3 separate regions of the Homo sapiens genome follow, and regions 1 and 2 are each linked to region 3. The links come from fine-mapping of genetic effects on gene expression. A gene starts in region 3. Each other region holds a variant in brackets. All regions are shown on one strand. Distances are between the middles of the regions.

Region 1 (8,000 bases), 150 kb before region 3:
CTCTCTCCTGACAATCTACCCCTCCTTTTCCTTGTATATTCATCTTCCTCTTGATATACCAACTCCCTCTGCTAAGCGTCTCCACAGCCTCAACCCTCTTCTGTCTTTAAACAATCCTGAGCCATGAAACAGCATTCTTACAAGCCTCCCTGAGCCTCCGTGCCCCCAGGGCCCCCAAAGTTCTCTTTCTTCTTCCTTTGGCATCAAATTCACGCACTGTCTCACCTTGGCATGGCCATCCTCTCCTTAACTCCTCAGCTTGGTTTAGCTCTGACTACTCCACTGAAATTCCTCTCGGTGAGGTGGGCCATGACCCATCAATTCTGGCTTCCATGGCCAGTGCCAAGCCTCATCTTCACACCCCCACTCCTTCCTCTGTTAAGCTTTCTCCAACCTCCTGAGGCACCAGTGTCTCCCAATCCCCTTCCTAGCTTACTAGAGACTCCTTCAGCTTCTCTGTTACAGAATCAACCTTCTCTGCTGCTCCTTGGAAGGTGGGGATCCTCTGAGCAGACATCCTCTCTCCCCTGCCTTGTCTTCTCATTCCAAACACTCACCCTGGCAAACTGACCCATGTCTGGGACTTAATTGTCACGTTTTTGCTCCTAACTCCCAATGTCTAGCTCTAGCCCAGACCCTCCTACCGCCGCCGCCATCACCTCTGTCCATCTCCTGGACACCAGGAGCCAGGCAGGTTTCAGACTTGCTTCCTCGTAGGGGTTCTCTTGGTGAATGGTTCCACCAGTGCGCCCACATGAAGGCACCTGGAGGGGACATTTGTCTCTTGGTAGCCCGTCATATTTCCTTTTCCTCCAGAACATCTGCCTTGAGCTTGAGGAATTGTTCATTCATCCACTTAACAAATGCTCATTCATCTGGGCATGATTCTAGACCCATGGTTCTTAACTTTGGTGGTATGTGGACGTGCCTTGAGAGATGGAAAGAATCCTGGTTCCTGAGTCCTGCCCCCGGAGATTCTGATTTAATTGCTCTGGGGCAAGTGCTACACAGTGAGATATTTACAAGCTCCTTGGGTAGCTTGAATGTGCAGCCGGTGTTGCCACTGTCCTGGGTGATGGGGGTACAGCTGTGAGCCAAGCAGGTGAAAATCCTGCTCTCTTAGAACTAAGAGTCGTGTGTGTGTGTGTGTGTGTGTGTGTGTGTGTGCGCTTGGATGAACAGGCAGTAAATAAAAAAGTAAGACAAGAAAAATATCAGCTGGTGATAGCACAACTGAGAGGATGAAAGTTGGATGGTGCCAGAGTGGCCACTTCAGTGCTGTGAAAAGATAACAGGGAAGAATGCTGAGCCATCGGGAAGGGGCTCTGGCCAGGGTTCCTGGCCTGTAGGGGCAGCCCTGAGCCCCGGGGCCATGTTGGGCCAGGCTCCTAGGACAGCTCTTTGTCTCTTCTCAGCCAAAGTCTACGTGGGTGTGAAACAGGAGATCGCCGAGATGCGGATACCTGCCCTCAACGCCTACATGAAGGTACCAGTGGGCCTTGCCACCTTGGCACGTGGAAGGGCATGCAGTATTGGTGGGGGAGCCCACGTACCATCCCTGGGTATGGCTTTGGGAACTGGGGCTGGCTCTCTGGCTCTGATGGCCCCATCTTCAATCCCTAAAGGCCTGGTCTGGGGAGTAAAACAGGATGCGTCCTTAGGGTTCCAGAGATAGGAGCAGGAGCAACGGAGAAGGTAAAAGAGCCACACTAGGAATTGACAAGTCTTCATTTAATGCTCCAAGCCCCACAGGTGAATGTCTATGCCAGGAGTTAAAATACAAAGGTGAATTCCATCCAGTGTCTGCCCCCAAGGTACCCACTGTCCTATGGGAATGCCAACAGGTGGATCATAAGATCACACGGAGACATATGTGTGCCTCCATCATGGGGGTGTGGCCAAGCAGGCCGCAGGTTGCTCATATAGCATCTTTGTGCAAACTAGAGTAGGCCTCCTCTGGGACAACTCACTCCCTTACGTGAACATGGGCTGGATTTTAGCTACACTCATGGGTCTTGGCTGGGGGCCCTTGTGTATTCTCCGACTTGCAAACTCTGCATCTCTATGAGATGGGAGCGTAGAGGAAGGAGCATCTTAAAGGCAGAGGCCAAGGTGGTCAGGAAAGGACTTCCACCAGCCACAGCCATCCAGGAAAGGGGCAGTGTTCCTCATGAGGTGGCAGTGAGTGCACCGTCGCTAGAGACCTGATAGTGACCTCAGGAAGCTGGCAAGCGAAGCCCTCCTCCCAGCCCAGCGGCATCCTCACAGCTGGAGAGCGCTGGGCTAGGATCCTTTAGTCTTGACTCTGACACTGACTGGCTGGGTGATTTGGGGTGAGTTGCCCATCCTCTCTAGGCCTTGGTTTTCACACTTGTGAAATGGGGCAGTGCCCTCTAGTATCACAGGAGTGAAGTTGGGATCTGTCGAGAACAGGATGAGAAAGTGCTTTGTAAACTGTGAACCTGCTTCCAGAATGTGAGAGATCTTGACTCCTGATGGAGGGAAGGAGCAGATGGAGGGCAGAGGAGGTGGGAGGAAGGAGGAGAGAGCAGGTAGCTGCAGGAATCCTGGGCTCTGAGCAGGGAAGAGGGAGGGAGGGGAGCTGGGTGGGCTCCAGCTGCTCCTTCAGGGTGGCTGAGGCTCCACCCTTCTCCCCCTGGGCTAGAATAGGGGAGTGGGCTGTGAAGGGAGGGAGGGAGGGAAGGAGGAAGAGAAGGCAGGAGGCGAGGCTGGGGAACTGGGGCTCCTCATTCCACACCTGGTCTTAGCAACCAGCAGCCCAGAGGATCCATCTCTGCCTCTTTGTGTCCAATTGGGTTCCTGGAAGCCAGAGATCATTCAGGGCAGGAATCTCTGCCATGGCCACCCCATCCTGTGCTTGCATACCCTCAGAGATGGGGAGCTCACTACCACTCCGCCCTGACCCAGGCTGCCTGTCCCATTGTTGGGCAGCTATGAGAAAAGCCCAACTCTCTGTAAGTCCTACCCACTGGTCTCACCCCGCCCTCATGAAGAATGTGAATCACATGATAATGACAACTGCCTGGAACTGCGTGAAGAGCTTTGACTGGCAACCAGGAGACTCTTGATACACGTTTATTGATAAATGAATAATCTTATTTAATCCCCTCAATAACTTGTGAGTTAAGTGTGACAGAGCAGTTAGGTAGGTGGGATGAGATTTGAATTCACATCTCTGTGACTCCAGGGTTTGAGCTCTTACCCACTGTGCCTCGTTGTAATGAAAATCACAGTAACAATGATGACATCTAACTTTGATGGGCACCTGGTATATGCCTGGTGTTGTTCTAAGGATTCTGCATGTATTTACTCATTTAATTCTCACACAATCCCACGAGGGAGAGGCTATTATTGTCCCCATTTTATTAATGACCATCTGGAGCCAGGTTTGCCCAAAGCCACCCAGCTGGTGACAGGCAGAGCTGGGATTCGATCCCAGGAGCCCCTGGCTCCTTAAACACCTCCCAGGCTGTCCCCATATGACAGCCTTTTCCGGGCTCTGCATCCCCAGTTCCTCTCGGACAAAGTTCCCCGACCCCACCTCATCCTGCTGCCCCCATGGGATCCTCTGCAGGGCTCTGGGTGCCTCTGGAGCCTCAGCACCCAAAGCCAACCCTCAGTGTCCCCAGACCTGTGCGCTTGGAGTTTGGTGAGATGACCCCGCCAGGCTCTGGGTGCTCGCGTCCTCACAGCTTCAAAGTCTTTGCATCGTGGTGGGTGTAACCAGCTTGGATGAAACAAGGACACTAGGGCTCAAGTCCGGGCCCTGTCACTTAGCTCGGCTCCTCTGGGCCAGGTACTTTCCCTCTCCAAGCATCAGTTTCCTCAACTATGATATGAGATAAAGTATCAGGAAGCATTTTGTAGGCTATAATGCCACCAACTGTTGTTAATTTGGGTTATTTTGGGAGCCCCCCACCCCCGCCAACTGTTGTCTCACCTTAAGCTTTGGGTAGCCTTTAGTGGCAGATGGCTCTGGGTGCCCCAGCTCTGTCCCTTGCTAGGCTTTGTGGCCTTGAGCATATCCCTTCACCTCTCTGATCCTAACTCAAGGGATGTCATGAGATGGAGCAAGGGCGCGCATGTGATACCCACCTGGTAAAGTCACCGCCGGGTCATGTTAGTTGTCATCACCATTACTGCTGTTTCTGGAGAACTTTAAGTCTTTTCCAAATGGACTCTTCTCAAGCCCCTGGTCCCTCTCCTGACCTTGGACCCAGGAGCAGAGCTTGTGAAGTGTTACCTTCAGCATGCTGAGTTTTCTTATTCTTTTAAACAACGC[A/G]TTTCTGTTATCAGGCATCATGCATTAGTAAAGAGAGGAGGGCTGATGTCAGGGCTCGGGGACGGGACATCTAGGCTGGGGTGTCCAGATCTTTCTGCTGACTACCCCACCGGTTCTGCTGTCTCACCCACACAGAGCCTGCTCAGCCTGCCGGTCTGGGTGCTGATGGATGAGGACGTCCGGATCTTCTTTTACCAGTCGCCCTATGACTCAGAGCAGGTGCCCCAGGCACTCCGCCGGCTCCGCCCGCGCACCCGGAAAGTGTAAGTGACCAGCCCCTGGGCTTCCACATGGCCAGAGCCCTGGGTCCCTGCTGGAAAAGCATCTCTTTTCCCTGAAAGGAGAGAAGGAAAATACAGATCAGCCATATCCCTGGACACTCCAGGATGATTTGATTTATTAGATGGGTTTAGAAAGTCATGTTCAGGCTTGGAGGGACAGAGGGTGTGTGCCTTTCAATGTGATAATAAGGATTGGAAGACGAGGACTGGGATATTGACTCCAGAGAGTTTGGTGCCACAGCAACTACTGGGGATAGCCCAGAAGCTCTGGGTGCCTGGAAAGAATTGGGGGCAGAGAGGAGGGAAAAGCTGCCCCATCCACAAACATTCTCTGAGCATCTCTGGGAATGCCTTCTCCCTGGTGTGTTGGAGCTCCATGGGGCCAGCTATGGCTCTAGTTGTATCATGCTGGCCTCCAGAGCACACTGTTCCTCCCTTATTCCAAAAAGCCCATCCTTCCCACCAAAAATTCAAGCCACTCGTAGACTGCTGGGCTTCCAAAGCCCAGGTTGCTGCTACTAAGAATTCTGGGAAAAGCAGGACGGAGCTCCTGAGCTCCCCACCAGCTCCTCCCTCTGCTTCCTCCCACCAATGTCTCCAAGGGTCCTCTCCATGCCTGGCATCTCCCCTGTGCACACAGGCAGGTGTGTCTTAATTCCAGCTGTGCCATGTGGCAGCCGCAGGCCCCAGAGCAAGGCACTTCACCTCTCCAACCTTCAGTTTCCCTCAGCTGAAAAATTAGAAACAGTCACATTTACATCAGAGCTTGGTTGTAGGGAGCAGAGGAACAAACACATCTGAACACTTTGGCAAGTGAAAGGCACCGAATGAGCGTGTATCCCCTTCCCCACCTGCTTTCTGAGCCTGGCTTCCTGGTCCATAAAGAAGGGAGAACAATCCCACCTCCAAAGAGGTTGTGAGGATTTGGGGACAAGTGTGCCCGCCCAGAGGAGCAATTGCAGCCACATTTCAGCATCTTCTGTCTCCTCTGCCTTCCCTGCTCCTTGCAAGGGGCTCCTCTGGACACAGGAGCAGGAAGCTGGGCCCTGAGAGAATCACAGGGCTAACAAGCCCCTCTTCTCTCTCCACAGCAAGAGCGTGTCCCCACAGGGCAACAGCGTTGACCGCATGGCAGCTCCGAGAGCAGAGGTAACCCCCGCCCCCACGCTGGCCAGGCTCTCACACTGTGGGCATCTGCCTTGGCCCACCTGCCAGCCACTGGGCCTCTCCTGCTGGGTGCTGCTGTGTGCCTGGGACAGTGCTGGGCACCAGGAGGAAGGAAGGGGTTACAGCCTCAGCCTCTGCCACTGGGGGTCCCCCGAGCCCAGCTAAGGGGAGGGCATGTGACCAGCGTGCGGAGCCAGAGGAGAATGCTTCCATCCCTACGCTCATCCGGACAGTTTACCTGGGCCTCCTCTGAGTCAGCCCTGCCTTAGGCATGGAAGCTGCAGAGATGACTCAGACAAGGCCCAGCCCACGATGAAGCCTGGGGACCAGGGTGGGTGCTCAGCCCAGAGAGTTCGAACCCTTCCCTGTGTGCTCACCCCCACCAGGTTTGGAAGGAGCACCCATCCTGGAGTCAGGGAGACCTGGGTTCAATTCCCAGCTCCTCCACTAAAAAATGGGGTGGCCTCAGAGAAGTCGCTTATTCTCCCCAAGCCTCAGTTTCTACATCTGTAAAATGGGAGACTAAAGTATGTAAGGCACTTCTATAGGAACTCAGTGAGTGTTCTCTCCTTCCCTCCTTACTGCACGCTTCTCCTCAGGCTCTATTTGACTTCACTGGAAACAGCAAACTGGAGCTGAATTTCAAAGCTGGAGATGTGATCTTCCTCCTCAGTCGGATCAACAAAGACTGGCTGGAGGTGAGTTCAGAAGTGAGGATGGAGGTGAGATTGAAGGTGAGGTTGGAGGGAAATTAAAAGTGAAGATAGAGGTGAGGGTGGAAGTGCAATTGGAGGTGAGGATGAAGGTGAGGGTGGAGGTGAGATTGGAGGTGAGGATGGAGGTAAGAGTGGAGGTGAGGATGGAGGTGAGATTGGAGGTGAGGATGAAGGTGAGATTGGAGGTGAGGGTGGAGGTAAGAGTGGAGATGAGATTGGAGGTGAGGATGGAGGTGAGATTGGAGGTAAGGTTGGAGGTGAGATTGGAGGTGAGGTTGGAGGTGAGATTGGAGATGAGATTGGAGGTGAGGATGGAGGTGAGGGTGGAGATGAGGGTGAAGGTGAGGATGGAGATTGAGGGTGGAGATGAGGGTGAAGGTGAGGATGGAGGTAAGGGTGGACGTGAGGATGGGGGTGAGACTGGCAGTAAGGTTGGAGGTGAGGATGGAGGTGAGATTGGAGGTGAGGGTGGAGGTGAGACTGGAGGTGAGGATGGAGGTGAGATTGGAGGTGAGATTGGAGGTGAGGGTGGAGGTAAGGGTGGAGGCGAGAGTGGAGGTGAGGATGGAGGTGAGACTGGAGGTGAGATTGGAGGTGAGGATGGAGGTGAGATTGGAGGTAAGGTTGGAGGTGAGGATGGAGGTGAGATTGGAGGTGAGGATGGAGGTGAGCGTGGAGGTGAGATTGGAGGTAAGATTAGAGGTGAAGATAGAAATGAGAATGGAAGTGGGATTGGAGGTGAGTTTAGAGGTAAAGATGGAGGTGAGGATAGAGGTGAGGAAGGTGAGTTTGCAGGTAAGGATGGAGGTAAGATTAGAGGTGAGGATGGGGGTGAGTTTGGAGTTGAGGATGAAGGTGAGGTTGGAAGTGAGGTTAGAGATGAGGTTGGAGATGAGGTTGGGAATAAGGATGGAGGTGAGGTTGGAGGTGAGGATGGAGGTGAGAATGCAGGTAAGGTTAGGCTGAGATTAGAGGTGAGGCTGGAGGTGAGGTTGCTTCAGGCATTGTATGCTTCAGAGACTGAGGATGGTCTCAGAAGGCCTCAGGGAAGAGATGCTATCTGAGGATAGCCCTGGAGATCCAGGCAGGTTGGGGAGCCTGCGGGAACAAAGCCTTTGGGGAGGCAGGTGTTCGGTGGCAGCAGAACATTCTTGGAGCTCATGCTTTGGTTCTGACCCTGAAAAATGGGTTGCTTAGGGCAAGTAAGTTAACCTACTGAGTTTAGTTTCTTGGTCTGTAATGGGTGTCTCAGCAGGGGCACTATTGACATTGGGGCCAGATGGTCCCTTGTGGGGTTGTCCTGAGCATTGCAGGCTGTTCAGCAATATCCCTGGCCTCTCCACTAGATGCCAGCAGCACTGCTAAATTGCACCAATCACATGGCTCTCCAGATATTTGCTCCTGAGGGGTGAAATCGCAACCACTTGTGTAATATGGGACAACAGTACATACCTTGCCCACAGCAGTAAAAGCTGCTGATGAAGAGTGTGAACTCAGAGTCAGCCTGTTTGGGCCATTTCCTAGCTCTGTTTT
Region 2 (8,259 bases), 220 kb after region 3:
GGCCTCCCCTGCAGCCAGATCGCCCCTCTGAGCCCGAGGCCCATACCAATCTCCTTGGCCAGTGCCAGGCCCTGCGGGTAGGTGATGGGAGCCAGCTTCTTCTCCTTCAGTTTCTCGATGGTGTCCTTGTCGTCCCGCAGGTCCAGCTTGGTGCCCACCAGGATGATGGGTGTGCTGGGGCAGTGGTGCCGCACTTCTGGGAACCACTGGGCAGGTGGGTGGGGGGACACAAGGTTGTATGGGTCAAGAGGGGGCGCGAGGCTGTGCGGGGATCAGAGGGAGTGTGAGGGTGTAGGGAGAGGAGAGGCAGCAAGTTGCCAGAAGATCAGAGGTGGGCACGACGGTGAGGAGAGAGAGACGTGAGGTGGCACAGGGAGGGGAGGCCACGACGTTGTGCAGGAAGGAGGGGGCGCATGATTGTAGGAAAGGAGGAGGCGAGGTTTTGTGCAGACATAAGAAGCAAACATGAGGTTATGTGACAATCGGAGGCGGACATGAGGTTGTGTGGGGAGGAGGAGAATGCAGCCATGGAAAGTGGGGGTATAGCTAACTATCGCAGCACCCCCCACCCCAGGTCCTCTGAATCTTACCCCCTCAAGTCCCTCTGCCAGCCCTGGTTGGCACTGGGGACCCTCTCTGTATGCGACCTCTGCTGCCCCAGGGACCAGCCTAGAGTCACCAGTTCCTCCCTCTGTCCCTCAGGGTTACCTGCCCCAGAGCCCCCAAGGCCCACCCTGTCCAGCTCACCTTGGCGCGGACGTTCTCATAAGAGGCTGGGCTGACGAGGGAGAAGCAGATGAGGAAGACGTCCTGGGGACAGAGCAAGCGAGGTTGCTAGTGAGGAGGGCCCAGAGGTGTCCCACCATGGCAGCCACCGAGAGGTGGAGCTTGGGGCTCCCTGAGGGTGGAACACCCCAGGGAATGCTGGGGACTTAGGATCTGGGCAGAGCAGAGATACCCTTCTCGCCTCTACCACGAGGCTGCTGTTTGTTAGGACGCTCACTAAAGGCCAGGGCCTCTGCGAAGTGGTTATCCTCACATGTCACTCTGCAGCAAGCACTGCTGGTAGCCCCATTCCTCAGACAGGGAAAGTGAGGCTTCCAGAGGTTAAAGAGTTTGCCAACGTGCACTCTGGTGAGGGGAGGATCTGGGATTCTAGAGTCCATACTCCAATCCATATACTATCCACCATCTGATTACCGGCCTTAGCCGCCTCCCTGCATACCCTGGAGGAAGGGCGAGGACCCAGCAGCCACCTGCAGGCATCCTCCACCTCTCCCCTCCCCCAGCACTCCCAGGGCTCACCATGCTGGGCTGCCTCCTGGGGCCCTGTGCAGAATCCACCTGCCCCACCACTGGAAACAGGGGGTGCCAGAGCCCAGGAGGCAATGGGGTGGGAAGATGGGCACATTGAGGACCGGGAACCAATGCAGGGCTGAGGGAGTGCAAGAGGAAGCCCTTCTCTGCCTGGGACATGCAAGGCAGGCAGACTCCCTGAGCTGGGCCTTAAGGGGAGAGGTAGGGTTTCCCAGGCTGAGCTGGCTGGAAGGGCATCCCAAGCAGAGGGAACAGAGACAGCAAAGGTCAGGACTGCAAGGCAGGTGGGAGCAGCACACCGTCTGTGGATAGGAGAGCGGCCGGAGACGGTCGTAGTCCTCCTGCCCAGCAGTGTCCCACAGCCCCAGGTTCACTGGCTTGCTGTCCACCATCACATTGGCTGAATAGTTGTCAAACCTGTGGGGAGCAGGCAAGGCGGAGGTAAGGTCAATCTCAAACCCCAGAACCTGGGAATTGTGGTCCAGCTCCATGTCATTCCTCGGAGGCTGAGACCTAGAGACAGTCTGCGACTGGCCCAAAGTCACACAGCATTTGCAATTGGGTTTCTTTATTTGTTTCATTACTGATTCATTATATTTTTTAAAAATGTAATACAAGTTAACAAGAAGAAAAAAAGATTGTCTCTTAATCCTTTTCCTACCCGTACCTGTCCTTTGGAAAGGTAATTGAGGCTGTGTAACTTTTCCTCCCAGTCTTGATGAGAATAAACTTACCTCTCTCCCTATGCTGCCACTCAATGTTTGCTTTTTGTTGTTTTTTGTTTGTTTGTTTGTTTTTTGAAATGGAATCACGCTCTGTCGCCCAGGCTGGAGTGCAGTGGCACCATCTCGGCCCACTGCAAACTCTGCCCCCTGGGTTCAAGTGATTCTCCTGCCTCGGCCTCCCAAGTAGCTGGGATTACAGGCATGCACCACCACGCCCAGCTAATTTTTGTATTTTTAGTAGAAACAGGGTTTCACCATGTTGACCAGGCTGGTCTCGAACCCCTGAACTTAAGTGATCCGCCCGCCTCGGCCTCTCAAAGTGCTAGGATTACAGGCGTGAGCCACTGCGCCCAGCCGCAATATTTTGTCGAATGAATGTTCATCCCGTCTCAGGCTGGGTCCCCCCAGAAGCAAACCCTGAGACAAGGAGGTGATGTGAGGGGTTTATTCGGGAAGTGACTCCAGGATGCTGCAGAAGGGGAGTGGGGAGGAATAAAGGAGGGGACAGCAGCTGACACAGGGCAGGTGGTTGAGTTGTCATGGCTGTGGACTGCTGCTGCTCTCAGTCCTGCTGGGGCCACCTGGGAGACAGAACGGACCGTGCTCAGGGCGTCCCCAGAGAAGGCAGGAAGCTAGGGTGCTGTCATTCATCTCCCATCTTCCAGGGAAAGAGGGCTGCTTCCGGGGCCTTTCAGCCCACCCCAGAGTGTGCGTGAAAGCTGTTAGTCACTGGCCATGGGAAGGGCCACGGCAAACGGTAGAAAGACACATGCTGCCGAGGAGATGGTGTGAGGCACTGACCTTGACTCCCAATGTCTCCCGCCAGACCCAGAGAGCCCTGCAGGGCCATCGAACGAGCCTCCAGATGCACTTGCTAGGCACCTACTATGCATCGGGTGCAGAGCCAGCGCTGGGGCCACCAAGGAGTACATGCCTGATCCTGCCCCCACAGCTGGCGGAAGGCCAGACACGGGGTGAGGGGCCTGACAAATATCAGAGACGGGGAAGCCCAACGAATGCTGGGAGGGCCATCCCAGGGCTCCAAGCTCGGAATAGGGGAGGTTTTGCAAGCCAGTTCTTGCTACACACATCCCCGCGAGGAAGGTGCTGGCTACCCACGCTGTGGAAGGGAAAACTTGGCTCAGAGAGATGCAGTGACTTGCCCAAGGCCACACAGCCAGTGAGTGACCCAACTAGGTAAGAAACCAGAAACCAGTGACCACGACCAGTGCTCACTGCCCCAGGCCACAGCTGTGCCTCCGGGAATGCCCTCACCGCCTGCCCCTGAGGGTTAGGGAATCACTGTCACTTTTCCCGCTGTGGTCCCCCACACAGGCCCTGACCTGGTCCACTGAGACCTCCGGCTCCTCTGACTTCTCCTCCTACTCCTCCCCTCGCACACCAGCCAAGCCGTTTCCCGGGAAAGGCTCACACTGCCCACCTCCCTGTGCTGGTCCACACAAAGCCCCTGCCCAGAATGTCCTTCCCACCTTAGCTGTCCATATGTTCTCACCAACCTGGTCTCTGGCCCCCACACCCTCCAGGCTGCCCAGCCCTCCAAGCCTTTGATCCTGTCTGTATCTCCCTCTGGAATACGCTTCCAGCCCCATTTCACTCCCAACTTCTATTCATGCTTCAAAACCCTGCCCAGACAAGTCCTCCTCTCTGGCGGAGCTTCGTCGTCCTCTACCTGTAAAGAGCCCATGGTTCCCTCTCTCAGGTGACTACTTTGCCTGGACCACGAGCAGGCACTTGGTGAGTCTCCACCCCTTCAAGGGCTGTGGGTTCTGTGTGGGCCAGGCCGATGCCTGCTTATTCTCCACAGTCTCAGGCCTGTCACCCAGTGAATGCAGGTGGAAGGGAATTAAACCACCTCCTCCAGGAAGTCCTCAGAGAACGCTACTCAATGTTAGGCTGCAGAAGCGCTAACACTTCAGAGTAACACAAAAGACACCTCTCCTGAGAGGAGTCCCCCACACCCCCAAAAAGTGGGCAGCCCAGCCTTTTTAATACACTTTGCCTGTCCAGCCCTGGACAGAATTCCTGGTTACCTCTCAGTTCCTCAAACGGCCCTGTTCCCGCCTGTCTGGA[A/G]AGTGCCTGCAAACAGTGGCCCCTGACTTCCCACTCTCCTTCCTCTCTCCCTTCTCTTCCTCCCCACTGCCAGGCTGGCTGACTTTTACTCATCCCTCCAGCCCCTGCTCAATGTCACCTCCTCCAAGAAGCCTTTCCTGACTTCCAGCCATGTCGGGGCTACCACCCCACCTAAACCAGCACTCCTTGGGGAACTCAGCATCCCAGGTGGCAGGCACTAAGCCTCATTTGTTTGCCGCTGCACCCTGGGGCCAGCCCGCGGTCTGGTGCACAGCAGGTGCTGGCGTGCACCTACTCTGGGTACCACCTACACTGCTGTGGGATTTCAGGAAGAAGGCGCTGTCCAGGGAGACACAGTGAGGCATGATGGGAAAAGCCACACCTGTGTTGTTTTTCCAGTTTTGACCAGAAACACACTTTTGGGAAATGCTTGGACACTCTCTCCTCTAATGTCCAGCCACAGTGCTAGTGCCAAGAAGCCCCACAAGATTCACCTGTCTCCTCTGGGTCATCCCTGGAATCTCAGGGCCACGGTGATGGGGAAAGAGCTGGGACCTTGAGAAGCAACAGCCACCTTCTCTGAGGCCAGGCAGGGGGCTGAGGGTCTTTGTATGTTAGGTCTTGAAGTCTCATGTGATCCAAGACAAAAGGATCTTAAGTTACCCCCATTAGACAGATGAGGAAACTGAGGCCTGAAGAGGTCAAGGACCTTTCTTGTTGGGCGGGAACACAGAGTTCCTTGGGAAGCCAGGACATCCTGGCTGTGTGACCCTGGGTGAGTGACCTAACTTCTCTGAGCCTCAATCTCTTTAATGTGGAGGGGAAAATACCTATTTCTTGGAGCCATTAGGAGAATCCAAAAAAACAGAGGATGTTCAAGCCACCCCACTGGGAGATGCTGAGAAGCTAAGCAGTCTCATTTTCCATGTCCCCAAATGCCCCTGCCACAGGGCCCCTCCCCAGAGGACCAGAGGGACAGGTGCAGGAATGTGTCAATGGTGTGACACCCCTGAGGGTCCCCCTTACTTAAGAGACCCACAGGCAGCCAGGACCAGAGAGGAACCTTATGCACAGACCACCATGGGCAACCCTCACCCCATTTTCCGGATGAAGAAATTGAGGCTTACAGAGAGGAAGGGACTTGCCCAAGATCTCCCAGCCAGTGGGTGGCAGAGCAAGGCTAGATCCTGTTACCCAATTCAGAAAGGCCCACATGGTAAGCATCGCTGCTATTTCATGGCTGGAAATGGAGTTGGAGAGAGCAGAGACCATGTTTTCATCTAGTGCCTGTAGAACTCTGAGGCCTGGCCCTAGAATGGAGTGGAGGAGGGGAATGGGGCAGGTGGAAGGGGCCCCAGCACCCAGGTATCACCTGACCACCACCGAAGCCCACCCCCACGGAGGAAGGATGGTGCATTCAAGGAACCCAGAGACCACAGGGCACGCATGGCTAGTGACTTGGGGGTGAGAAAGGATTGATGTCATAGGGGCACGGACCAGTCAGGTCTTGGTTCTCAGGGCAATGGGGAACCAGCAAGGGGCCAAGCCAGGCAGAGGTGATGAGATCAGATTTGCATTTATAAAAGGTCCCAGCTGGGCACGGTGGCTCACGCCTGTAATCCCAGCACTTTGGGAGGCTGAGGCAGGTGGATCACCAGGTCAAGAGATCGAGACCATCCTGGCCAACATGGTGAAACCCTGTCTCTACCAAAAATACAAAACTTAGCTGGGTGTGGTGGTGCATGCCTGTAGTCCCAGCTACTTGGGAGGCTGAGGCAGCAGAATCGCTTGAACCCGGGAGGCAGAGGTTGCAGTGAGCCGAGATCGCACCACTGCACTCCAGCCTGGTGACACAGCGAGACTCCGTCAGGAAGGAAGGAAGGAAGGGAGGAAGGGAGGGAGGAAGGGAGGGAGGGAAGGAGGGAGGGAGGGAGGGACCCTCTTGGAGAAGTCTTAGGGAGGGGCCAGAGGGGAACAGAGGGGGAAACTGGCACATCAGCCAGGAGGGGAGGCCCTTACCGTGCTATTGGTTGAAAGATGAAGGCAGCTGGAGGTGTCACGGGGCAGGGAGAGGTGGAGCAGGAGGGAACAGAATACCCAACAGAAGGGGTGCCTGAGCTAAGGCAGAGGCTTGAGCCACTGGACATCATGAGGCACCCACACACACAGCGGCAGGAGCAGGGATGGGGCTGCCGAGAGGCCAGGCAGAACCTGGTGGGGCCTGGCGCACACAGCTAGGGAGGCTGATGTCATCCTGTCCACTGGAATCCCAGGCTGGATTCGCCAGTTTACCGAAGAGAGGATTTCAAATGAAAGTGAAAATTAAGTGCCAAATGATTCAACCTCAATTAGCAGCACACATTCTTCCATGCAGAGCTGAGCCCTGCCTTCCTCCCCGGGGTCGGGGAGGCAGTCATGACGGAGCAACAGGAATGGGCTCAGCTCTGTTCTAGAAACTGGCGCGATGGCAGGGAGTGAGGCAGATAAGGGCCCCGTCCTCAGGGAGCTTCCATCCAAGAGGAGGAGTGGCAGCAAAGGAGCAGCAAGATGAAGTCGGGCTGTCGGGGGGCCTATGAAGACAGCCAAGCAGGGTGGTGGGATGGAGAGGGCAGGTTGGAGACGGGGGGCTGCTGTAGACAGGGGGTCAAGGAGGCGATGTTTAAGCAGGGAACTGAATGACAGGAAGCAGGGAGGGTTCTGGGTGTCATAAAGGGGAGTGAAGAGGTTCGGGGGAGGCAGAGATCATCAAGGCAGTCTGTGTACTTGGAGTGAAGTGGGTAAGGGGTGTGGTAAATGAGGCTGGGGAGACGGGGGCTGTTGTTCACGGTTTGCGCATTAAGATGAGTTTTAAGTGTGAAGGGAGCCACAGGAGAGATTTAGGCCAGGTTAACTTTCAGTTGTTTTTTGGGAGGCTCTTTTTATTTTATTTTATTTTTTGAGACAGGGTCTCACTTTGTTGCCCAGGCTGGAGTGCAGTAGCACAATCACAGCTCAATGCAGCCGCACCCTCCTAGGCTCAAGCGATCCTCCCACCTCAGTCTCCCGAGTCGCTGGGACTACAGGCATGCACCACCATGCCCGGCTAATTTTTGTATTTTTTGTAGAGATGGGGTTTCTGCTCCATGTTGCCCAGGCTGGTCTCGAACTCATGGGCTCAAGCGATCTGCCTGCCTCAGCCTCCCAAAGTGCTGGGATTACAGGCATGAGCCACGGCGCCCAGCCTAACTTTCAGTTTTAAAAGCTCACCAGGGCTTCCGTCGAGCTTGGTTCTAACGAGGTGAGGTGTAAGGGGGCGCCCCTCTATGCCACAGGCACACGAGGGCACTGTCTTCCTGCCATGTTTCTGTATCCCCAACACCTAGCACGGGGCCATCCACAGAGCAGACTCAGGCTCCCCATCTGCGAAACGGGGGATTTGATGCAAAGAACTCACAGGGCCCTGCCGGCTCCAATATAGGGTCTATACAACAGAGCAGGCGGCAAGAGCCAATCACGGTGCAGCCCCACGAGTCCTGGCAACTGATTGGCTGCTCAGGAAGGTGTCAGTTCCGAAGGTTCAGGTCCATCCCTTTGCTGTTAACCCCTCATGGCTGGCAGCATGGGGAGCCAGCTCTCAGGCTTATCTGATCTTGTATCTGCAGCAGGGGCCTCCCCAACCCCCAGCAAACCTACCATCCTCAGCCCAGAAGCTCTCTCCACCTTAATCTCAGGTGCCAGAGATTTGGGGCTGCCTGTTTTTCCCAACCCACCTTCTCTCCCTCTTCCCCCTCCAATGTCAAGGGCCCAGTGTGACTATTTTACCCTCCCTTCACAGGGGCACAGGCATTGGCAGTAGCAGGATCCCGCTCTGGGGTCTCGTCTGGGGCTGAGAAACTTTGTGCCTGAAGCCATATGAGGGTGTGAGGCAGGATTCACCACAGAACTTGCAAGACCCAGTGCAAAATGGAAGTACAGGGCCCATGCTCAAAAATGATTAAGAATTTCAAGATGTAGACATCAGAGTATTAAACAAGGTGCAGGACCCTTCTGAGCATGGGGCCCTGTGCAATTGGATAGGTGGCCACACGCATAGAGCTGGCCCTACTGGGATACCTTCACCCAATCCTTCGGAGAGACTTGGGAAGGT
Region 3 (8,259 bases):
CCAGAAAGCAGAGGCTCCCATGCTTCTCTTCCCAAGTCTAGCTGAAGGCTTCTGGCTCTCCCTGCCCCCAGCAGGCATGCCCCCATTCCCATAACCTGCGGCACCAGGCACTTGACAGCAGGTGCTCTCAAGAATTTTATCCTCCTCAATCCTCACAAAGCAGGGGAGATTATTCTCTCAGCATTGCTGGGGGAGCCCAGGCTCAGAGAGGTGATGTCGCTTGCCTCAGGACACACAGCAAAGGTAAGTCTGATTGGTCTGCCCCCAACGCCTGTGTTCTTTGACCACCCTGAGCCTCCCTGGAAAAGGAGACTGAGGCTGGGGAATGGATGAGATGACCTCTTGTACTCAACTACTAGAGTTAACATCCCTCAGGCCACTGGTAGGTGTGGATTTTTAAGGCCAGGAAAAGCTGTCTGGCGCTTTCTCCTTTTACTAAGGAATCCAGAGCAGGCAGCCCCAGAAGGCAACCCCTTAACCCTAGCCAGGAAGAGGCAGCCCTGCACCTTCCCTCCTCCCTCAGCCAAGCTCCCAGCCCTGGGAGGGAGAGATAGGCAGAGTGGATTTTCAGTCCCATACAGCAGCCCGGGAGCCACACCATGGAGCCGTGACCTTTCCCTCAGCCCCTGGGCTTGCTTACAGCTCACCCCACCCACAGCAGTAGCCTTGGGAAACAGCCCCAACTTGAAGCCTGCCGACCTGGGGTCAAGTCTCTGCCACTTTGTCTTAACAGAGAAGCCCCTTCCTTGTCCCCACCCACAAAGTGGGACCCAGCCTACCTACCCCTGCCTGCCTCCCCTTGCAGGGCTGCTGTAGGTGTCCAGAAGAGACTATATAAAAAGCGTTCTGTAAATAAAAGTGCTCATTAGCGGGTCGATACCCTCCTCCCTTCTTCACCCTCACTCCCTCCAAGAAGGGAGGCAAAGAAAATTAAGTCGATAAAGAAACTGGGCTGGATAAACTCCTACTCTGCCTCTCTCACTTCCTCCAGCCCTCCTCTCAGGTGAGCAGCGCTCCTTTCACGAACAACAGTTAGCGGTGAAGGCACTAGCCTGAGGCTAAGCATCAGTATCACACCTGGATGGAACCTCAGATCTGGCTGACTCCAGGACTAAGAGCTTGTGGAGGCACAAAACTACAGCCAAAGAGGAAGGCGCTTGCCTAAGGTGAGCAGGAAGTGGCCGCCAGGTGTCTAAGCTCTGCTTCTCGCTCCATTTAGGGTCATTCCTTCCAGAGATGATCAGGGCCAATGCCTGACCCCCAGGTCTGCCACCCCCATGCCCCTGTGTGTTACATCTGGACCGCTGAACCTACAGGGTGCCTCCCTGATCCCACACCACGCTGGGAACCATAAACTTGGCAGAGCCTCATGTGCCTTTGTGTCCCCAAAATATCTTGTATGGGAGGCCAGCAAAGCCTCTTGGAGGAGGGGGTTGGGGGGGAAGTGCCACACCCTCCAGGATTTGTATCGTTCCTTACCCTTCTTGAAATCCCTTTCCAGCCACTGCTACTTTTTTTTTTTTTTTTTTTTTTTTTTGAGACAGAGTCTTGTTCTGTTGCCCAGGCTGGAGTGCAGTGGCGCGATCTTGGCTCACTGCAACCTCCACCTCCCGGGTTCAAGCGATTCTCCTGCCTCAGCCTCCCAAGTAGCTAGGATTACAGGCACGTACCACCAACGCCTGGCTAATTTTTTTTTCATTTTAGTAGCGACGGGGTTTCACCATGTTGGTCAGGCTGGTCTCGAACTCCCGAGCTCATGATCCGCCCACCTTGGTCTCCCAAGGTGCTGGGATTACAGGCGTGAGCCACCACGCCCGGCCGCCACTGCTACATTTAAACAAATGCATACTCATGTGGGTAGGGCTGGCGTGACTCTTCTCATTTTATGATAAGGAAACCCAGAGAGGCCAAGCAACTGGACTGAGGTCACTCCAAGGAGGAGTGGCTGAGCTGAAATGAGAATCCATGTTCCCTGATGCTCCTGAGGGAAACTGAAGGAGGTGTGAACACAATTACAGAGGAGGAACTTCAGCATCCCGGGCCTTCAGGAGGCATTACCCACTGCAGGCCATTCTCCTCCTCTGAGCCTCAGTTTCCTCATCTGTAAAATGGGTGAGGACATTGGGCCTGGCACCTCCAAGCTGTCCCTTCCACTTATTTCTTAGGTTGCTTCAGGGCAGGCTGGGAAGCAGCAAGAGAACCAATTCCACTGATCCTCCCCCATGACAGCTTAAATCCCAAGGAGAAGAGGCGTCTTGAACCAAGGCCAGGAGAGGGCTGCAGGCGTTCCCAGCCAGGATTCTCTGGGAGGTGCCAAATGAACTTGAATCTTCAACTCCAGACCTTCAGAGAGCAAGCAGGCAAGAAAAATATGGGGCCTGGAAAAAGCTGCGCTGGAAAGGGCAGAGACCCTGCTGTCCTGGCTCTGTCACTAACTAGCTATGCGGCCTTGGCCCCTGCCTCTGTGCACCTCAGTCTCCCCTCTGTCAGGTGAGGTCACCGTTCAGGCCCTCCAGCTCTAAGAGTGTGCAGAACAGTTTTCCCAGCATTCTCTCTGTAGGAGGTACAGACAGGAAGAGATGTTTTTCAACAAGTCAGGCAAAATGTTGCACACGAGTTAGATTCTGTAGAGAAGGAGCTCTGACTGAGGAAAGAGCCACCAAGGAGGTGCCCAGAGACAAGAGAGGGCCCTGCTCCTGGAAATGGCCAGGCAGGGACTGGAGGGCACTCAGCAGGAGTGATGGCAGCGAGACGGCAGTCCTGCCTCTAGAAAAGGGAAGACCTCCGAGGTTCTGTCTGGCTAGGAGGTTCTAGAACTCAGCATTTCCTCTCCTGAGGCTCTCCCCAACCCTCAAGCAGTATCCAATCCACCTGGCCTTCCCTTCCACAGGAGGGGAACTTCTGAGTCGCCTTCCTGGGGCAACTAGCAGAGGGGACTCCCTCCTGGCCCTGGGAAGTAGGGGTAGGGCAGCATTGGGTGCGTCCTGGTTTATAGCCCTGGTTTGAAACAAGGCAGCATTGGATTCGAATCCTGCCTTCCACCACTTTATGTCCTGGCATCTCAGTCCCCCCACCCCCCGCTGCCAAAACAGGGGCATTGAGCTTTGTTCGCTGAGATAATGCGGTGCCAAGTGTCTGGCATGAAATGGCAGCTGCTGTTACAACTCTGCCGACGGGCTGCAGCTGCCTGGAAAGGTTATGGAACCTTTGCAAACAGCAGGCAGGGGCCCCAGGAGAGCTAGATTTGGGGAGAGGGGGATCCTGCGGGGAGGGACACTGTTGATGTCTATAAGGGTTTCTGCGGGACGAGAGAGGCCTGGAGAAGCTGGATGTGTCCGTGGGAGGTTTCTGTACAGCAATGCAAACGCTGGCTCAGGGGCATGACACCCTTAGGTATATCCTAGTACATGTGGGGCAGCTGGTGCCTGGGAGTGGAGGTGGTGGACATGTCACCAGTGACTTCTGCTCACACAGATGCTAGGTGGCTTCTTAGCACATGGCTATGAGGACACATTCTTGGGTCCTTGTGCATCCAAGCTGAAAAAGCCTTTAGGTTTGTCTCCACTTTCTGGTTTTATCGATGGAAAGACTGAGGCCTACATGGGAGGATTGAAGGCATGGGACGGACCCTGGAGAGGGTCCCAGTCATCCTTACTCCCTATCCTTCCATGGGGCAATACTCCCCAGGGACCACCCAGCACTGGGACACCTACCTACTGCATCCGGCTCCGGCTCGGTGCCCAGGAACCGCCCTTGAGACCTTGAATCCACCAGCTGGAACCTCTTAGATTCAAGGTTCTCCAGCACCTGCTCGTAGGTCTTGAGCAGGGAGCGGTCCAGTGTGGCTTTGAAGACGGCCGGTTCTGGGCGTGAGGGCTCGGATGTCACCGGGTGGCCCTCCTTCAGCCAGTTCCGGAAGCCACCATTGAGCACTGATACGGTGCGGTGGCCAAACACACGGAACATCCACCAGACCCGGGGAGCATAGAAGCTGCCCAGGTGTTCACCATCATACACCACCACGTGCGTGTGGTTGCTGATGCCCAGGCGGCCCACATACTCGGCGAAGCCAGCCTCGCTGGGCAGCATCATCTCGTAGGGCGACGCCGTGTCCCGGCACTCTTCTATGTCAAAGAAAGAGGCGCCGGGTACGTGGCGCTCGAGGTACTCCTTGCGGGCCTCTCGGGTGCCTGGTGAGTACCAGGACGCGTCCAGCACCCGCAGGCCGGGCCCCAGCTTGCCAGTCCTGATGGACTCCGCCAGCCACTTGGTGGAGACCAGCGCCCGGTAGAGCACCTGATGAACCATGGCTTCAGCTCTGCGTGTCACCTGGCACGGGTGGGAACCAGGAAAGAGAGACAGGCGTGAGGAAGGAAGTCGGTGTGTGCAGTAGGGTGAGGCCTGGGAGAAGCTCTTTCTCCCTCCGCACTCCCCCGGGTTCCTTGTTTACAGCAAGCCAGCGAGGCTGGGGCGTGCAGCGGGATAAGTTTGCAGATTCCCTCTGGAAAGCCGGCCCCGCCCCTCCCAGCCGGCCCGGGGGCCCAGCGCAGAAGCGGGTGGGGCAAGAGTTTCCGAGGACTCCAAGTAGGGGCGCTTCCTGGGGCGGGGATCTGGCTCCTAGAAGTTACAGTACTCGATCCCGCCAGGAAAGAGCAATGAAAGCATGCCCGGGATGGGGGGCGATGGCATCTTGGGCTTAGAATCCCCTTTCCTTCCAAGGCAGAGGGGGTGGGCGCACGGCTAGGAAGCTCCGCGAGCCGCGCACACGCCATCGCCTGCGGCCTCCCCAGGCAGCCCGAGCTCGCCCGCCTCCAGAGTGCCCGAGTCCGGCCCGTAGCTCGCTGCCCTCTGCCCTAGGTGGATCAGGGGTTCCCGGGGCACCCCGTCCCACTCTCGCAACGCTATCCTTCCCCGGGCAGCAGGTGGCCCGACCGGCGGCCCAGGCGCCCGGCCGCTGCCCCCGCCCCGCACTCACTCGCCCCGGACGCCGCGCTGGCGCTCGCCCCGGCCGGCTGGAGAAGTTGGCCGGTTCAAACCCCCGGCCGCAGCTCCCCAGGCGGCGCGCACCATCGCGCCACCGCCAGAGGGGGACCCTGCGCCGCCCGCCGCCATCCCGCGCCTCCCCCGCGCGGCCGCTTCGCGCCCGGCACCTGCCAACCTCGCGCGCGGGGCCTCCGGGACCCGCGGGGGTCTGAGGGGGACGCCGGGTGGCGCGGGGGCCGCGCGGGCCTGGGCTGGGCGGAGCGGGCGTACCCCCACGGCCCGGCCAGTGGAAGGCGCGGGCAGCAGCGGCTCCGAGTGGCCGCGGCGGTGGGCTGTGCCGGAGTCTCCTCCCTTTGGTCCGCTGCAGGTTGGTGGCGGGAGGAGGGGACAGCTGCGGGCGCGGGGAGGGGGCGCCGCGCCGCGGGGGCCATGGCGGAGCCAGGAAGCCGGGAGTCCGAGACCCGGGTAACTGCCGCGGCGTGGCGGCTTGCCTTTCTGGAGGGGGAGGGAGTGGCTCTTTGGGGGTGCTCGGCGCGGGGCTCCCGCGCGGGACCTGGGCGGAAGAGGGGGCTTAGTCTAGGAGAGAAGGCGCGCCGCTACGTTGGCACTAAGGGTGACTGTCCGCTTGGGGCGGCCTGCCGGGTGGGGTCGTGGCGAGTGGCGGGTGGGGAGCCTTGGGTGGAAGTGGGTGACCTGGTGGCACCAGAGAGGGCGGGGGAGAGAGAGGAGGACAGGGAGACGAGACCCCGCTGACCCAGAGGCCCCAGGAAGAGACACTAGCCAATAACTTGTTAGTGAGTGAAAGGAACTAACATTGTCCAGCCCTGCTTGGTGTGGCACTTTGCTGGGTACTCCCGTGGTGTGACTTAATTCCCACAATAACCCTGAGGAGTAGGCCAGAAACTTACTAAGACAGGAGAGAGCGGCAGAGCGAGTTGCTGGAGGACACACCCAGAGTTGAGGCCGGGCCTGATCCCTGGTCTGAAGCCCACGTGGTACCAGCTGCCTTTGTTTACCTGGCTCTTCCCTGAAGGTTCATGCTTTTTAAAAAATTGCCTGTTTTGAACTTAGCCCGTTTAATCATAAGTTGATGTAATTCAATTTTTAATAATAGCTGTATTTAACAACCAGTTGGCAAAATTCCTGAAAAGCTCGCCATGGGCTCTTGCAAACTGGGGGACACCATTGCCCCTCCCTAGCTTTTGCAGAGGCCAGCCTGGAAGCTTTCCCTGTTTCCCAACCCTGACCTTTTGTTTTGTTTTGTTTTTTGAGACAGGCTGTGGTTCTGTGGCCCAGACTGGAGTGCAGTGGCGCCATCTCAGCTCACTGCAACCTCCGCCTCCCAGGCTCAAGCGATCCTCCCACCTTAGCCTCCCAAGTAGGTGGGACCACAGGCATGTGCCACCATTCCCGGCTAATTTTTAAATTTTTGGTAGAGATGGGGTTTCACCATGTTGTCCAGGCTGGTCTTGAACTCCTGGGCTCAAGTGATCTGCCCATCTCAGCCTCCCAAAGTGCTGAGATTACAGGCATGAGCCACCATCCCTGGCCTCATCCCTCTTTTTAAAAAAAGGTTTTGTTCTAAAATGCTCACAGCAATCCTCAAAGCCTAGTGTCTGGTGGTTGGGGGAGGGGGTGGGCAGGAGGGACCAGGCTGGGGAGGTCCAAGAGGAGCTCCCAAGCTCTGCTCCTCAAGGGGTACCCTGGATCCAGCCTGCGGCTCACGCTTGCTTCAGTGCAGCTGTGTATCCTTCTGACATGAGCCTGGGGCGGTTACGTCCTGGGGTCCTCCACTCCCAGGGCACCCTCACCTACAGTGATCCCGGCTTCTGAATCACACAGGCACCTGGTTTCTACCCCTCCCTGACACCCACAGCCTGCCTTCACACCCTCCTTTATGGCCCACAGACCTTTGTGAGAAGTGCCAATCAAGCAGGGAGACTGGGGCAGGGTGACCTCAGATCTCTGAAGTCCCACCAAGCCCTGAAATTCTAAGATTTTAGATTTGCTGCTGGCAGTTCCAGGGCCACCAATGAGAGTAATGGAAGAAATAATGCAATATTATTATTATTATTATTATTTTGAGATGGAGTCTCACTCTGTTGCCCAGGCTGGAGTGCAGTGGCGCGATCTCGGCTCACTGTAACCTCTGCCTCCCAGGTTCAAGCGATTCTCCTGCCTCAGCCTCCCGGGTAGCTGGGACTACAGGCTCATGCCACCATGCCCAGCTAATTTTTGTATTTTTAGTAGAGATGAGGTTTCACCATGTTAGTCAGGCTGGTCTTGAACTCTTGACCTCGTTATCCGCCCGCCTTGGCCTCCCGAAGTGCTGGGATTGCAGGTGTGAGCCACCACGCCCGACCTAAACCGTTTTTAATGATTATTAAAACCAGCCAGATGTAATGCATGGTGGTTGCCCCTCTACATTTATTGTTTAATCTTGGCTCTAAGAGGTGGAGGTGAGAAGCTCCATTATAAGGAACAGAAACCACCCAGAGACCCTACACACCCACATCACACAACCAGTTAAGCAGTGGAGTGGGGTTTACATTGATTTGGGGGGCTCTCTGGCTCCTAAACCAGGGCTCTTTCTACTGTAAATGGATGATTGGGTGAGGGAAACAAGGATCCTCAAGAATAGGGGACAGTGTTTGGGGGTGCACAGGGGCTGCTGTGGTTCCCACAATAGGGTTCCTCAGGAAGGAACCTGCAGCATCTGCCAGCACAGCGCCCCCTAGCTGTGCTGTAACGCAGATAATGGGGATCACCCCTTAGCCAAACACCCCTTGGCAGCCTCCCTACCCTAAAGACCGTGCTGAGGCTTCCTGGGCCCCTGGAAAAGTCAGATTAGTCTGGACTTCCTCCTACTCCAGGAAGCCTTCCCACCTCTTCTGCTGCCACCCCAGGCAAACATAGGGGCCCTCTGTGCTCAACACTGAATTCTAAACTATCCTCAATTTCACTCTCTCTTGCCTGCAGCCTGACGTTTCCCCCCAGGGCTTGGCAAAGGCAAGAGTGCCTCGGTGTCCGGCACAAGGCCTGACCGCATGGGTGAAGTAGGTTCCTAAAAGCCAGCTGCGGCCAGACTGTGGGGGTGGGCACAGGGTGTCACCCTAGAACTCATTAGGCCCTGGTCATCATGGCACCTGGGGCAGGGGAAGTCCAGCCTGAGGGGTCAAATTCTGGCTGCAAATCCTGAGGCTGCCTCCTGTGACCACGGGCAAGGCACTTATTCTTCTAATTGCCAGTGGCCTCATTCATAAAGCAGGCGTCCTA

Direction of the effects. Positions count from the first base shown, and alleles are read on the strand shown. Sizes are in standard deviations (SD) of each study's normalised expression. Not every link is listed here.
As copies of G replace A in region 2, the expression in monocytes of the gene that starts at base 5,023 in region 3 goes down (large effect, 1.3 SD a copy in Fairfax 2014).

Evidence for each region. PIP is the estimated chance that this variant, and not a neighbour inherited with it, causes the effect.
Region 1: its variant is fine-mapped to the expression of TST in whole blood (TOPMed, PIP above 0.99).
Region 2: its variant is fine-mapped to the expression of TST in monocytes (Fairfax 2014, PIP 0.95).

What each region holds. Positions count from the first base shown.
Region 1 is chr22:36,865,977-36,873,976 of GRCh38, forward strand. NCF4 (neutrophil cytosolic factor 4) reads left to right here. Exons shown (of 10, transcript NM_000631.5): 4 at 1,416-1,486; 5 at 4,439-4,566; 6 at 5,676-5,733; 7 at 6,351-6,449. It overlaps NCF4-AS1 (NCF4 antisense RNA 1), which reads right to left and starts at 4,467. Exons shown (of 2, transcript NR_147197.1): 1 at 4,117-4,467. RefSeq lists an enhancer at 5,817-6,355. The variant A/G (reference allele first, on the strand shown) is at 4,304.
Region 2 is chr22:37,231,185-37,239,443 of GRCh38, forward strand. It overlaps RAC2 (Rac family small GTPase 2), which reads right to left. Exons shown (of 7, transcript NM_002872.5): 3 at 1,617-1,734; 4 at 748-810; 5 at 47-206. Among named protein-coding and RNA genes, the nearest start is that of RAC2, 9.0 kb to the right of the region's middle. RefSeq lists enhancers at 1-79, 2,567-3,068, 3,069-3,568, 5,849-6,527, 6,528-7,206. The variant A/G (reference allele first, on the strand shown) is at 4,134.
Region 3 is chr22:37,014,425-37,022,683 of GRCh38, forward strand. TST (thiosulfate sulfurtransferase) reads right to left here and starts at 5,023. Exons shown (of 3, transcript NM_003312.6): 1 at 4,976-5,023; 2 at 3,714-4,329. The coding sequence starts at 4,308. It overlaps MPST (mercaptopyruvate sulfurtransferase), which reads left to right and starts at 5,318. Exons shown (of 3, transcript NM_021126.8): 1 at 5,318-5,448. The coding sequence starts at 5,413. RefSeq lists enhancers at 3,566-4,541, 4,570-5,071 and silencers at 4,545-4,604, 4,765-5,154, 5,185-5,304, 5,315-5,634.